2 separate regions of the Homo sapiens genome follow, and region 1 is linked to region 2. The links come from fine-mapping of genetic effects on gene expression. Tissue or cell type: lung. Region 2 holds a variant in brackets; the other region holds the start of a gene. All regions are shown on one strand. Distances are between the middles of the regions.

Region 1 (8,108 bases), 63 kb after region 2:
GGTTCCTAACAGGCCACAGACCACAACAGGTCCATGGCTCAGGGGTTAGGGACCCCTGTTCTATTTATTTATTTACTATTTATTTATTTTTGTAAATTGATATCCCATTTCAGTACCCCTGTTTTAGAGCAGTGGTTCTCAAAGTGTGGTCCTCAGACCAGTAGCATCAGCTGGGAACTTGTCAGAAAAGCAAATTCCTAGGCCCTATCCCAGAGCTACTGAATCGGAAACTGTATAACAAGCTCTCTACGTGATTCAGAAGTATATGTAGTTTAAACACTACTGTGCTAGAGCATCTAGAACTCTGTATACCCAAAAAGGTATGTGGTAGGCACATAATAATATTTATCAAAAGACAAGCCTGGACCTTGGGGTCTGCAGACACACCCCTGAGCTCCTCCCAGGTGAATTTTCATCATCCTTGGGTCTTATCCCTGCCATACCAGGATTCCATCCTAACCTCCCCCACACACAGACACAAAAATATATAGTTAAACCTTCTCTGTGCTTTCATAGCTACTTACCTTTCTTCTGTCATATACATGGGTGGACTACAGACCATAGATTATGGCCATGAACTACCTGGGTTCAAATCTCCACTCAACCACTTAGTACTTATGTTCCTTGGGCAAATCATTTGAACTTTCTGAGCCTCAGTTTATTCATTTGTAATGAGGTACCTACCTCACTGTCTTGAGAAGTTAAACAAATTATTCTAAGATTAAATGAGTTAACATATGTGAAGGCACATGGTAAGAACTATGTGTGAACTCTATGAGAGACAGAGTGTGTGCTACTGTCTTACTGTACTTATCACACCATGTTGTAATAGCCTAGGCTGTAAGTGGTAGGGATGGGGAAGAAGCATACTAGACTAGGACTAGTCTCTCTCTTGAGGGATAGACGCTGAAAAACGTTTGATGAATGGATGGTAGATCCTCCATGCTCTTTCAACTGCCCTACACTACCTCACAGTGGCTGCCAGCCCTAGAGATGTTCTAGATAGTAGGACAACTTGTTCTACTGGAATTAATTACCATCAACTCAAGCAAGAAATTCTTCCCTATGAAAGAAGCACATGAAAGAAGATACACAAATGGTCAATACGCATATGATGCTCAACATCGTTAGCCATTAGAGAAATGCAGATCGAAACCACAATGAGATATCATTTCACACCCACTAAATGGTTATAATCAAAGACACAGGCCAGGCGTGGTGGCTCCCGCCTGTAATCCCAGCACTTTGGGAGGCCGAGGTGGGCAGATCACCTGAGGTCAGGAGTTCAAGACCAGCCTGGCCAACATGGTGAAACCTCGTCTCTACTAAAAATACAAAAATTAGCCAGGCGTGGTGGCAGGCACCTGTAATCCCAGCTACTCAGGAGGCTGAGGTAAGAGAATTGCTTGAACCCGGGAGGCAGGGAGGTTGCAGTGAGCTGTGATCGCACCATTGCACTCCAGCCTGGGTGACAAGAGCAAAATTCCATCTCAAAAAAAAAAAAAAAAAAAAAGACAAGTACAAGTGTTGTTGAGACCGTGGAGAACTATGAACCTTCATACACTGCTGGTGGGAATGTAAAATGGTGCAGCCATTGTGGGGAAACAGGTTGGCTATTCTTCAAAACGTTTATAACATAGGTGCCATAGGACGCAGCAATTCCAACTCCTAGGTATATATCCAAAAAAAGGAAAAGGTACATCCACACAAAACCTTGCACATGAATGTTCATAACATCATTCATGATAGCCAAAAAGTATAAGCAATCCAAATGTCCATCAACTGATGAATGGACACAATGGAATATTACATATACAGCCACAAAAAGGAATGAAGTACTGATATACCTTACACCGTAAATGAACCATGAAAGAAGCCAATTATAAATAAATAACAAAGCACCTCAAATTATATGATTCCATTTATACAAAATGTCCAGAAGAGGCAAATCCATAGAGACATAAAGTGGATTCGTGGCTGAAAGGGACTGGAGGGCAGTCTAACTGGGGTTGGGGAGTGACTGATAATGGGTCCAGCGTTTCTTTTTTGGGGGTGATGAAAATGTTCTGGAAATAGCTAGTTGTGATGTTTGCACTACTCTGTGAATATACTAAAAAACACTGAATTGTACACACCAAATGGGCAAATTGTATGGCATTATATCTCAATAAAGCTGTTTTTTTTGTTTCGTTTTTTGTTTTTTGTTTTGTTTTGTTTTTTGAGACGGAGTCTCCCTGTCACCCAGGTTGGAGTGCAGTGGCACGTCTCGGCTCACTGCAGGCTCCGCCTCCCAGGTTCACGCCATTCTCCTGTCTCAACCTCCCGCGTAGTTGGGATTACAGGCGCCCGCCACCTCGCCCGGCTAATTTTTTGTATTTTTAGTAGAGACCGGGTTTCACCGTGTTAGCCAGGATGGTCTCGATCTCCTGACCTCGTGATCCGCCCGCCTCGGCCTCCCAAAGTGCTGGGATTACAGGCGTGAGCCACCGCGCCCGGCCTGTTGTTTTTTTTTTTTAAAGTAACTAAAATGGTAGTAAGAATGACCATTTCTAAGCGCTTGCTAGTGCCACATACTATGCTGAACAGCTTTTGTATATTCATTGTCTGGAACTTCAAAAAAGTCAAGAGTCTACAAAATATTCGTAATGACCCTAGGCCTTGGGGCACATAGCAGGGGCTCAACAAATAGCTCTCTCTGCCTGATCTAGTGTTCGCGAAGGGAAGTGCTGGCACAGACCAGGGTTTGTAACAAAAGCCTTGGCGAGGAGTAGCCTGGTGCTGGACGAAGAGAGGCCTGTTAACCCCGAACCTAAACTGGAGGGAAACGGGAGAGCAGTGCTGTGATCCTGAGGCAGAGCTGAGAGAAGGAGTTCTGGGCTTGATATAGGGCCTGGTATAAAGCAGAGTGACGGTCCTGGACTACCTCCTGCCCACGAGAGGTGTCGTGTTGTGTTTTGTTTTGTGATGGGATCTCTCTCTGTCTCCCAGGCTGCAGTGCAATGGCACGATCATAGCTCACAGCAGCCCCAAACTCCTGGGCTCAAGCGATCCTCCCGCCTCGTTCTCTCAAAGTGCTGGGACTACAGGCGTGAGCCACCACGCCCAGCCCCAAGAGAGGTTTTTGTATGGCAGGAAAGGAAGGGCAGTGGTAGTTGCGCACACAGACTCTGGAGTTGGATTAAACAATCTGACTCCATTGTTTAAACACGTTTCTTAGCCGCAGTTGCTTGTTACCTTACTGATAAAATGAGGGTAGTGATAGTACCTACCTCACAAGACTGCTGTACAATTAAATGAGTTCACTACAATATGGAAAGTACTTAGAACTACACCTACACATTGTTAACAGCTCATTGTATGTTTGGGGCTGCTAGCCTCTTCATCATTGTTCTGTGTGAGAAGCACCATCTGACTAGATTCCCAAGGGAGCGGAGGGAAGGAACAGGAAAGGGCGAAGAGAGGCAGGCACGAACATCCACTCTTGGGGGTCCAGTTGTGCAACGTGGCCTCCACTTACACTGATTATTTTACACTGATTTTGCGTGTGTCCATGCGCTGGGAGGAAAGGGAGGACGTGGTCTGCCCCAACCCCGCTGCTCAAGGTCCTCCAAGGGTCCAGTCCCCGGCTGGCAGCCTAGGGCACGTGAGGGCCGGGAGGCTCACCCGCGGCGGAGGGTCTGGGGTCCGGGAGGATCTGGGCAGCGGAAGAAGGGAGGAGCGCGGCTGCACGGGGCGGAGCTAGGGGAGGTCCGGCAGGAGGGAAAGGCCTGTCCGGAGAGAGGGACGCGCATCCGCTGAGGCCGCGCCGGGCGCCAAGGGCGCGGTACCTGGAGTCGAACTTCTGGCCGTCGGGGAACGTCCCCACGTAGTGGTAGCGCACGAAGTCGCCGCTGCGCACGGTGCGCGGGCACTCGTCGGGCACGAAGCGCCGCTCGATCTGCAGCTCCGCGTCGGAGCCCAGGCCCGCCACGGGCGCTGCCTGCCCGGTCACCCAGAGCAGCAGCAGGAGCAGCGGTGGCGGCGGGGGCCTCCAGCCCCGGAACGCCATCGGGGCGGCGAGAAGAGTGGCGCGGACGCAGCGCGGCGCTCGGGCGGCACGGGTCGGCCTGGGCGTTCGGCTGCGTTTGCAAACGTGGACCGGGTCTCCTGGCCCTACCCGGGCTGCAGCCGCCACCCCGTCTCCCCGGCCGCCCGCCCTCCCGGCCGCAGCTCCAGGGGAGGAGCCCAGCCTGGCCGCGCGCCGAGGGCGGGCCTGCTGCGCCCTGCCCCGCCCGGCATTGGGAATGTGCGTGCCGCAGCGGGGAGGGGGGCTGGGAACTCCAGTGGGGACCAAGTCTGGGCCTAGAGAGGGCGTGTCCCCGAGCGAGACACTGTGATCTCCGGACAAGGCTTTGGCCCAAAGTCGGAAGAGAAAAGCGCGTACTGCCCAAGCCCACCCGCTGGTCTCCGCCCGTCCCTGGAGACACCGGGTTTGGTGCCGTGAGGGGCTCCTACGTGGCCGTGGATCCAATTTTCCCTTGCTGCTTTGGAGAGGGAGGGAAAATTAGATTTTAATTTTTTAAGCTTAGTTACAAGGGTATGGTCTACCTTGAAAGAGACCGAAACCATCCTTCAGGACTTTTTTTTTTTTTTTTTAATACTGCTTAAAGGAAAAGGAAGGCCGGGCGCCGTGGCTCACGCCTGTAATCCCAACGCTTTGGGAGGCCAAGGCAGGCGGATCACGAGGTCAGGAGATGGAGACCATCCTGGCCAACATGATGAAACCCCGTCTCTACTAAAAATACAAAAAAATTAGCCAGGCTTGGTGGCGCGTGCCTGTAGTCCCAGCTACTCGGGAGGCTGAGGTAGGAGAATCGCTGGAACCCGGGAGGCGGAGGTTGCAGCGAGCCGAGATCGCGCCACTGCACACCAGCCCTGGCGACAGTACGAGACACTGTCTCCAAAAAAAGAAAAGGGAGGCATGTATTGCGAGAGGCTCCCGTGACACTTGTCTAGGCAAAAGTTTTAAGGCACCGTGAGGGTCCTCCAAGCCATCAGCGGCCGCACTGTGAGCTGATACTTGCAGACATCCTACAAGCTCCCATATACGAGCCTATGCCAGGGAGGACTTCATCATAGAGACCCAGAAGCCACAGGAATCCATTAGAGTAATCAGATGCACTTGGAATTGGAATTGGGTGTTATAATTTATTAAAATTTTGGAATAATGAAAGCAAATCACCAACTCTTTCTCAACTCGTTTTGGAAGCAAACACAATTCTGATACCAAAACCTGGCAAAGAGAGCAACAAAAAAGAAAAATAAAACTGAAAAAACAGGGCACGATCTAATTTATAAATATAAATGCAAAAATACTGAATAAAACGTAATAAAATCGGATTCAACCGCATATTAGGCCAGGCGCAGTGGCTCACACCTGTAACCCTAGCACTTTGGGAGGCCGAGGTGGTTGGATCACCTGAAGTCAGGAGTTCAAGACCAGCCTGTCCAACATGGTGAAACCCTGGCTCTACTAAAAATACAAAAATTAGCAGGGTGTGGTGGCACGGCCTGTAGTCCCAGCTACTTGGGAGGCTGAGGCAGAAAAATTGCTGGAACCTGGGAGTCGAAGGTTGCAATGAGCCGAGATTGTGCCACTAAATTGCACCACTGCACTCCAGCCCAGGCGACAGAGTGAGACTCTGCCTCAAAAAAAAAATAAATAAAAAATTTAAAAAACGGTATGTTAAAGGAAAAATATACCATTACATGGGCTACCTAGGTGAGCTTCTGTAAATTAACAAAATGTCAGTGTTCTCTGTAAGATGAAGATAAAACAATCATTATAAGATTACTATAATCTTAGGTTTCAGGGATCGAATGAGAAACTACATGAATAACAAGAAAAATGTTCATTGTTCATCTTAGAGCTTATTCTAGAAATAGAACACCTATTAATAAAATTATAGGACAGAAGAAGGGAAAAAAAGCTCTAAGATCATGTGGCCATAGACTCAAAACGGCATGAGATAAAATTCAACATCTACCTCTGATTTTGAAAACAAACAGAGGGCCTGGTGGCTCACTTCTGTAATCCTGGCACTTTAGAAGGCCGAGGCAGGAGTATCACTTGAGCCCAGGAGTTTGAGACCAGCCTGGGCAACATGGCAAAACCCCACCTCTACGAAAAAATACAAAAATTACTCACCCCTGTAATCCCAGCACTTTGGGAGGCCAAGGGGGGCAGATTGCTTGATCTCAGGAGTTTGAGACCAGCCTGGGCAACCTGGTGAAACCCCGTCTCTACTAAAAGTACAAAAATTAGCTAGGTGTGGTGTTGCATGCCTATAATCCCAGCTACTCCGGTGGCTGAGGCAGGAGAATCGCTTGAACCCCAGAGGCAGAGGTTGCACTGAGCCAAGATCGCACAATTGCACTCCAGCCTGGGTGACAGAGCAAAACTCTATCTCAAAAAAAAAAAAAAAAAAAAAAGAAAAAACTTTCTGATTGTAGTCTATTAAGTCTATTAATGGCACTGACCACCAAAAAGTACTTTTGCATGTCATCTTTGTGTTGTCAAACAATACCTTGATTTTGAAGTATATAATCATTGATAATAAAAATTGTTATACATTTTATTGGCATGAATTCAGACATTCAGTTCATTCACTACACATATACTTTGGTCCAGTCTTTGCTTCACTTATGTCTCCGTGGCTTCAGGCAAGTCAGGTAACTTCTTACTTCCACCCTTGACTGTAAAACAGATGATACTTATCTTGCCTACTGACCTCTTACGGCAATTTGGGGAAATATCTTGGTGCTGAATTAGTTTCTAGGCTCAGACGCTAAACATACAATACATATTAATTGGTAAAGACTTGGGATTTGAAACTTGATCTTTTGAACTAGATGCCAAGAAGTCCAATCTTCATGACAACTCTGTATAAGGTCATAGGTGTAATCACTACTTTACAGAAAAAATAAACTCCAGCCTGGGCAACTGAGTGATACCCTGTCTCAAAAAGAAAAACAAAAACCAAACAAAAATTAGCCAGATGTGGTGGTGTGTGCCTGTAGTCCCAGCTATTTGGGAAGCTGATGTTGGAGGATCGCTTGAGCCCTGGATGTTGAGGCTGCAGTGAGCCATGATTTCACCACTGCACAATTGGCCTGGGTGACAGAGAGAGACTTTGTCTCAAAAAAAAAAAAAAAAAAAAAAAAAAAAGGTAGAGCAGGGCGGCCTGCACCTGTAGTCCCCGTTCAGCTACTTCGGAGGCTGAGGTGGAAGATCATCTTCAACCTAGAAGATGGAGGCTGCAATGAATTGTGATCACACCACTGCACTCCAGCCTAGGTGACAGAGTGAGAGCCTGTCTAAAAATATATATAAAATAAAATAAAAATGAATGTCTGCTCGTGGTGGCAGGATCTAGGAGCCTGTAGTCCTAACTACTTGAGAGCCTGAGGTGGGAGGATCTCTTGAGCCCAGAAGTTCAAGTCCAGCCTGGGCAACATACCACGACTCTGTCTCAAAAAAGAAAAAAAAAATCTTGCTATTAAAAAATGTCACAAATTTTTTAAAGACAAATGATAAATTAAAAAAATACTTGGCCAGGCGCTGTGGCTCACGCCTGTAATCCCAACACTTTGGGAGGCCGAGGCGGGCGGATCGCGAGGACAGGAGATCGAGACCATCCTGGCTAACACGGTGAAACCCCATCTCTACTAAAAATACAAAAATTAGCCGGGCGTGGTAGCGGGCGCCTGTAGTCCCAGCTACTCAGGAGGCTGAGGCAGGAGAATGGCGTGAACCCGGGAAGGGGAGCTTGCAGTGAGTTGAGATCGCACCACTGCACTCCAGCCTGGCGACAGAGCAAGACTCCATCTCAAAAAAAAAAAAAAAAAAAAAAAAAAAACAACTTACGGCCAGGCATGGTGGCTCACGCCTGTAATCCCAGCACTTTGAGAGGCTGAGGCGGGTGGATCATGAGGTCAGGAGTTCAAGACCAGCCTGGCCAAGATGGTGAAACCCCGTCTCTACTAAAAATACAAAAATTAGCTGGGCGTGGTGGCAGGCATCTGTAATCCCAGCTACTCGGGAGGCTGAGGCAGGAGAATCACTTGAA
Region 2 (8,108 bases):
CCCAGGTTCAAGTGATTCTCCTGCCTCAGCTTCCTGAGTAGCTGGGATTACAGGCACATGCCACCACACCTGGCTATTTTTGTATTTTTAGTAGAGACAAGGTTTTACCATCTTGGCCAGGCTGATCTCAAACTCCTGACCTCGAGTGATCTCCCCACCTCGGCCTCCCAAAGTGCTGGGATTCCAGGCATGAGCCACCGTGCCTGGCTGGATTTTTTCAATTTTTAAAGTCGATACATAATAACTGTATATATATATGCGGTACATGTGATATTTTCAAATGTATATAAAATGTGCAATAATCAAATCAGGGTAATTAGGATATCTGCCACTTCTAATATTTATTCTTTGTTTTGGGAACATTCTAAATCTTTTCTTCTAGCTGTTTTGAAATATACAATAAAATACTGTTTACTATAGTCATTCCACTGTGTAAACACTAGAACTTATTCCTTCTAACAGTATTTTCATAACCATTAACCAGCTGTTCTTTATCTCACCAACCCTCCCACCCTTCCCAGCCTCTGGTAACCGTCTTTCTACTCTCTGTTTCCATGAGATCAACTTTTTAAGTTTTCACATATGAGTAAGAACATATAATATTTGTCTTTCTGTGCCTGTCTTATTTCACTTAAGATAATGACCTCCAGGCTCGCCCATGTTGCTGCAGATGACAGCATCTCTTTGTTTTTTATGGCTGAATTACGAATCAGATTTATTTGGTGAAAACACTAGGGCACTCAAGGTAGCACCTTGTAGTTAAGATTATTCCCAGGACTTTATAAAGGAACCGCATGAGAAAATTCAATGTAAAGAGAATAAGTTAACAGTGTGGACCAGAGACTTGAGCACAGTCCTATGCATCTAGGAAAGCATGAAGTATGTGTTTGGGTAGCACAGAGAAATTCTGGCCATGTGGGCTATGTTTACAATAATGCATTTCACTCTTTTCTTACAGATAATAACGGACTTTGATATGACACTCAGTAGATTTTCATATAAAGGGAAAAGATGCCCAACATGTCATAGTAAGTGTGATATTTGTAAACAAATTCACAAAAGCATGTCATCATTATTTTAAGATCCTCTTTATATTACCTGTGAGATAACTGGGTTTTTAAAATTCTTCTTGGACATTGACAGTGAGGAGACCTGCTTTTTCTTATTATATTTTTGAGGTTTTTTTTCCCATATTATATAAATGGTTATTTTCATGTATGGTTTTGGTAGCAAAGGGAATCAGAGACTCCTGAAATATTTCTTGCCAAATATGGTCTATTCATTATTCAAGAAATATTTAAATAGGTTGTAAACTTTGGGTTAACCTGAAGAAACACCATTTATCAAATACTTTGTTTTCTAGGAATTTTACCAAATTTTAATGTCTTTTTTGTTTTCCAACTTGGCTGTGAGTTTTTAAAATAACACTCTTCAACCTGACAGGGAAACGGTGAAATGAACTCTCTCATTTGCTTTTAGTACATGTGTAAATTGAAAAATTATTTTGGGGCTGGGTGCGGTCACTCATGCCTGTAATCTCGGCATTTTGGGAAGCTGAGGCGGGCAGATCATTTGCAGTCAGGAGTTCAAGACCAGCCTGACCAAAATGATGAAACCCTGTCTCTACTAAAAATACAAAAATTAGCTGGGCATGGTGGCGGGCACCTGTAATCCCAGCTACTCAGGAGGCTGAGGCAGGAGAATCACTTGAACCCGGGACGTGGAGTTTGCAGTGAGCCAAGATTGCACAACTGCGCTCCAGCCTGGGCAACAGAGTGAAACTTCATCTCAAAAAAAAGTAAAAAAGGAAAAGAAAAATTATTTTGATAACTTGTATTAAAAAAATGCTAAAAATCGCCAGGCACAGTGGCTCACGCCTGTAATCCCAGCACTTCGGGAGGTGGAGGTGGAATAATCACTTGAGCCCAGGAGTTTGAGACCAGCCTGAGCAACATAATAAGACCTTTTCTTACAAAAAATAAAAAATTAGCTGGGCATTGTGGCATGCCTGTGGTCCCAGCTACTCATTTGGGAGGCTGAGAGGGTCCTTGAGCCTGGGAGGGCAAGTCTATAGTGAGCCATAATCGCACCACTGCACTCCAGCCTGGATGACAAAACAAGACCCTGTCTCGAAAAAAAAAAAAAACACTAAAAATCTTCATATCCTTTGCCCTATTAAGTCCTCTTTGGAGAATTTCTAATAATCTCAAATGCAGTTTTTAAAAAACTTTATTCACAAAAATAATGGTGACTAAGCTCAACATAAAATTATTACTAATAGCAGATGCTTGGAAGCAACCTAAAAAGTTTAATGCTGCAGAAATGATATAAATTATTTTCTGCTCACATACCAGAAATTTTAATTACATGGAAAAATGCAGACTACAATGTGAAATGAAAAAGAAAATTCAAAATTACAGATTTGGTATGATCTCTTATCTAATTGATATACATGAAATCTTAAGACTGAAAGGAAATATACTAAAATATTGTTCATTACTTATTATTGAATGCTAAAACCTTTTACCATTCAATTTTTGTTTTCTTCTTTACAGTGGTCTGGATTTTCCAGATGTTTACGTTAAGCATTTATTATCTTTTTATTACGAAAAAAATGTATTTCCCATATGTGTTTCTTATATTTAATTACAAAGTAGAAAATGGAAGTGATCAATACACAGTTCATAGTATTTGAAGATATTGAATTGTCTATCTCAGTGATGTAAGCGAGCAGTCACTGAATCTCAGATTTTAAGCCATTAGCTTCTTTAACAATGTCATGTGAATTATACCACTGACACCAAAAGTTATAATAACCATGCTAGTTGACTTGGCATTACTTAAAAGTATTGGGTTGGTGCAAAAGTAATTGAGTTTTTTGCCATTACTTTATAGCAAATTATTCATAGTAGTGGTAGCATAAATCAGAGTATTTCTTTTAATGCTTATTTTGCTTTCTATCTTTAGATATCATTGACAACTGTAAGCTGGTTACAGATGAATGTAGAAAAAAGGTAAACACTAACAACAATCTATAGTCACTCAAAGACTTCATTACCCTTTTTGCCTGAGAATTTCTTCAGGTGCATTCACAGAAGTAAGAATGGATGTAAAGTGCTTACAGCCATACCTGGCACATAGTAAGCACTCAGTAAATAGTAGGTTTGCTGTATGAATTACACATTCAAAACATATTTTAAAGATAAAAATTCACAGTAACTTGACAACAAAACTTATATTTAAAACTCTTAAATGATTACCAAAGTATTCTGGTGTTGTAACGTTAACTGGAGATTTAAAACAAAAGTACTTCAGTTTTCTATAGGTTTTGCTCCTTTAAGTTGATGAGGAAGTTGCTTCAGTACTTCGCTTGAGTATGTATGTGTCTGTGTATATCTTAACAAAATGCAATTTGAAATGTGAATCAAATTTAATACCTTTATATGAAAACTAAAGTGTTTTTTGTACTGATAATTTTATTGTTGGTTTTTACTCATCTGAAAGTACTTTACAAAAGAAAGGTAGCTTTTTGCAGGTATATTTGATTACATGTCAACTAAGATCAACAAATATTTTTTCAATTGATGCATTAGCTCAACTTTTAAAGCAGTTTGTTGAAAATACTTGTTTACATTGTTTTGCTTTCTATAAAACCAAGCAGATTTATTTTCAAGTAATCTTCATGATTAAGTTATTCATATCTTCCTAGTTATTGCAACTAAAGGAAAAATATTACGCTATTGAAGTTGATCCTGTTCTTACTGTAGAAGAGAAGTACCCTTATATGGTGGAATGGTAAGTGTATATTAGGCAGTAGGAGGATTAAAAAAAAATAATAAAACAACACTGCAGTTACAACTGATGGCTTATTTTTTACCTGTATTGCAAACAAACAGATTAATAAATTATGCAAGTTAGAGCATTGAATAACAAAATGAGCTCTAATTATCTAATCTCTCTAACAGTTTAGGAATCCTTTTGTTTTGTTTATTTAAGGTGAAGTCCAGTAGGAATAAATTAAAAGTCCTGCATTTAAGTCTCAAATTAAAAACAAGAATTTTTTTTTAAGTATATGAACAAAACGTGGCTTAATGTGTAAAGAAAAGGTATGAGGATTTAAACTGAGTCTGAACTCAGAGCCAGCAGGTGATATGGTTACCCAAAAATCGACCTTTGGTTGCATTAATCAAAATGCAGTGTTCCAGGCAGATCACACTGAAAGCACTGTGTCGGATTCTGGAAGAATGCTGTTAAGAGAAACCATGACAATAGTGACCAAAAAAAAAAAAAATAGATCATGACAAACTTAAAAGGAGTCAGAGTAGTCCACCAGAATGATCAGAGGAATTTGAGCCTTCCCACTTGACGAACATTTCAAGGAATAGAAAATGCTTTGATTTGAGAAGGAACA[A/G]CTTGTTTTAAAATCTTAGGAGACCAGGAATGATTTGTCTTTATTGTCCCGTTACGTAACAGTTGCATACTTCATCTGTATTTGTGGTACTAAATGTTGAAAAGATATTAGACTTAACTCTACAAACTGGTAGCAGCAGAACTGGAACTAGACTTGGAAGATATAAGAAGATTGATTTCAGCATGAGAAATGAAAAGCCTGTCTAGCAATTAAGAGTTTTCTGGCAATGGAATAAGCTTCCCTGGGAGAATGAGCTTACTGACATGTTAGAAGCTGACCCAGGCAGGGAAGAAGGTGACTTAGGAATATTATAGGGGTATTTTTAGGTATCAGATGAAGAGTTAGGCTTTTTTTTCTTTTCGTTTCTTTCTTTCTGTTTTTAGTGGCTGTTTGCATAATTGTAATGGGTTAGAGAGTCTAAGGGCCCTTTATACTGAGATGCTATGATTATAGGTGTTTTCTACATAAAGCAGGCTAATCTGTATATGACACTTGCCATAACAAAGATTTTCTCTCTTGTTCACTAAGTAGCATCTTCAGTATGTAGAAAATTCAAACTACAAACAAATTTTAAAAATGGGGTTGCTCTAATTCATTTTACTGCAATCAGAGAAAGGATTATGCTTCCATAGGTTGGGTTGAGTTTTTATGTGTAGAATTAGGAAAGGTTTATAGCTAGTTTCCTTTCATTACCTTACTAACATATTTAAGCTAAGTCTGGGTTTGGGAGGACTGGGAAACTCAGTAAGAACATGCATATCACATTTTGAGACATGAGGTATACATTCATTAGTGATGAACTTCAATCTCTAAAATTTAAATCCAAATATGAGGAACAGATTTTCTCACATGGAAGAATGTTTTGTAATAAAGATAATAATTTTAGTTTGTCTTAATTGATAGTCTTTTTTCCTTTGGTCATAAACTCCAGGTATACTAAATCACATGGTTTGCTTGTTCAGCAAGCTTTACCAAAAGCTAAACTTAAAGAAATTGTGGCAGAATCTGACGTTATGCTCAAGTAAGTTTCTTGGATGTTTTTTGCTGTTATTGTTCACAGACTTGAATTATTGCTATTTATGTAGTCAGTTGTACTTTTTAAAAATAAGATTGAATATTCCTTATATAACCATATCCAAAATATGCCACCTATCACAAAATACATAGTGGTAAGATAAGGAATTTAGAATGACGTATTAGATCTTGGTGTAGGTAGTAAGAGCCTTATGAGATTTAAATTCTAATTTGTATTTTGTTTCTCCAGATTAAAAATGTCAAGACTTAAAATTTTTGAACCAAGGCCATTTAAAAATTTTTTAGCAAAATACTTAGGAAAGACATATGAAAGGAATGTATAAATCAAGTTAAAAGGGATTTAAGTATACTTTTTTTTTTTTTTAAAGACAGGGTCTCTCTCTGTTGCCCAGGTTAGAGTGTAGTGACATAATCTCTTCCTCAGTTCAACCTCTGCCTCCTGGGCTCAAGCGATCCCCTTGCCTCAGCCTCTCAAGTAGCTGGGACTACAGTCATGCACCACCATGCCTGGCTAATTTTTGTATATTTTTGTAAAGATGGGATTTCACCATGTTGCCCAGACTGGTCTTGAACTCTTGAGCTCAAGCGATCCCAAAGTGCTGGGATTATATGTGTGAGCCACCATGCCTGGCAGTATACTATGTCTAAATTTACATAAGCCTACTTTTTAAATTCTCGAACTTCTTTGAAAACTATTCCTAGGAAAGATTAGTATGTTTTAGTACATAATTATATATGTATGCATGAGTTATAAGATACAAGAAGCTTTTTTTTTTCTTTTTTTTTTGAGATGGAGTCTCGCTCTGTCACCCAGGCTGGAGTGCAGTGGTGTAAGCTCCGCCTCCCAGGTTCACGCCATTCTCCTGCCTCAGTCTCCTGACTAGCCAGGACTTCAGGCGCCCGCCACCACGCCCGGCTAATTTTTTGTATTTTTAGTAGAGACGGGGTTTCACCGAGTTAGCCAGGATGGTCTCGATCTCCTGACCTTGTGATCTGCGCATCTCCGCCTCCCAAAGTGCTGGGGTTACAGGCGTGAGCCACTGCGCCCGGCCCAAGAGCCTGTTTAATACTGTTTATTACCTCGTAAAATTTTCAACTCATTAGGCAAATATGATGATGTTACTTTTTTATGATGATGTTATATTTTAAGGTGATTACTTCTAAAAAGGAAAGCAATAAATTGTCAGAAAAAGTGTGAGGACAGCTAGTAAGTGTTTCATTCCTTAGTAGGCAACATTAGCATTCTTTAACCTATGGCCCAGGAAGGGTAAAAAAGGGAAGAGGGCTTAAGATCTTAGTAAAGACACATGCCAGATGTCGAGAATACATCTAAGTTCCTGCCACTCTGCTTTTCTTTTCAATTTTATGGATTTTGATGAAACTGTAAGAATATCAAGTCATTCTTCATAATTTTAAAATCTGAAAATATTTTAATCATGTAAATGTATTTGTTGTTGGTCAATATATATCCATTAAGTTAGGCCAAGTTGATAGGCCCACTATGGGACTCCATCCTTCTCAGTGTTAATATATCCATGTTTTAACCCCTAAGTGGGGTTTTCAAGGTGTAGCTTAACTATTGTTTTCTCTTTTTAAATTTCATTTTAGAGACAGGGTCTCGCTATGTTGCCCAGAGTGGACTAGAACTCCTGGGCTCAAGCAATCCTCAAGCCTCAGCCTCCCAAATAGCTGGGACTATAGGCATGCACTGCTATGCCTGCCTATTTCTTTTTAAATGGTATAAATTGTGAACTGTAGGTTTATATTCATATTCAGTGAAAGCTTAAAGACATCTAGTTTGTAGTATTAGAATTGATTAAAGGGAAAGTAAAGAGTTAACTGTTGTTTGAAAAACTTGTAGTATTGTAGATATCAATAACAGCCCTCTTGGGCAGTATATTGAAATGAGAATATGAGTGAGCCATAGAATTACTAGGAATATTTCACTTTTTTAGCTTCTAAGTAAAAAGGAACTATATCTTGCTCTTTAATAACCAGTTTGTTATCTCCATCTTACAGAGAAGGATATGAGAATTTCTTTGATAAGCTCCAACAACATAGCATCCCCGTGTTCATATTTTCGGCTGGAATCGGCGATGTACTAGAGGAAGTTATTCGTCAAGCTGGTGTTTATCATCCCAATGTCAAAGTTGTGTCCAATTTTATGGATTTTGATGAAACTGTAAGAATATCAAATCGTTCTTCATAATTTTAAAATCTGAAAATATTTTAATCATGTAAATTTATTTATTGTTACTTAATATATATCCTATATCCAGAAATTAGGCCAAGCCGATAGGCCCACTGTGGGACTCCATCCTTCTCAGTGTTAATATATCCATATTTTAAAAACAATGTGCCCTTCTTAAACTTTCATTCCCCAAGCTATAGACTAATAATAAAAGTAGTAAAACTTCTTCTTTTTTTTTTTTTTTTTTGAGATGGAGTCTCACTCTGTTGCCCAGGCTGGAGTGCAGTAGCACAATCTCAGCACATTGTAACCTCTGTCTCCTGGGTTCAAGCAATTCTTCTGCCTCAGCCTCTCGAGTAGCTGGGATTACAAGCGTCTGCCACCACACCCGGCTAATTTTTGTATTTTTGGTAGAGATAGGGTTTCACCATGTTGGCCAGGTTGGTCTCGAACTCCTGACCACAAGTTATC

What was found. PIP is the estimated chance that this variant, and not a neighbour inherited with it, causes the effect.
Region 1: FKBP9 starts here. The variant in region 2 is fine-mapped to the expression of FKBP9 in lung (TOPMed, PIP above 0.99).

The regions. Positions count from the first base shown.
Region 1 is chr7:32,953,514-32,961,621 of GRCh38, reverse strand. It overlaps FKBP9 (FKBP prolyl isomerase 9), which reads right to left and starts at 4,182. Exons shown (of 10, transcript NM_007270.5): 1 at 3,828-4,182. The coding sequence starts at 4,048. RefSeq lists a silencer at 3,926-4,395 and enhancers at 4,486-4,535, 4,385-5,335.
Region 2 is chr7:33,016,959-33,025,066 of GRCh38, reverse strand. NT5C3A (5'-nucleotidase, cytosolic IIIA) reads left to right here. Exons shown (of 9, transcript NM_001002010.5): 3 at 959-1,028; 4 at 2,968-3,014; 5 at 3,710-3,795; 6 at 5,343-5,432; 7 at 7,466-7,628. Among named protein-coding and RNA genes, the nearest start is that of NT5C3A, 42 kb to the left of the region's middle. The variant A/G (reference allele first, on the strand shown) is at 4,412.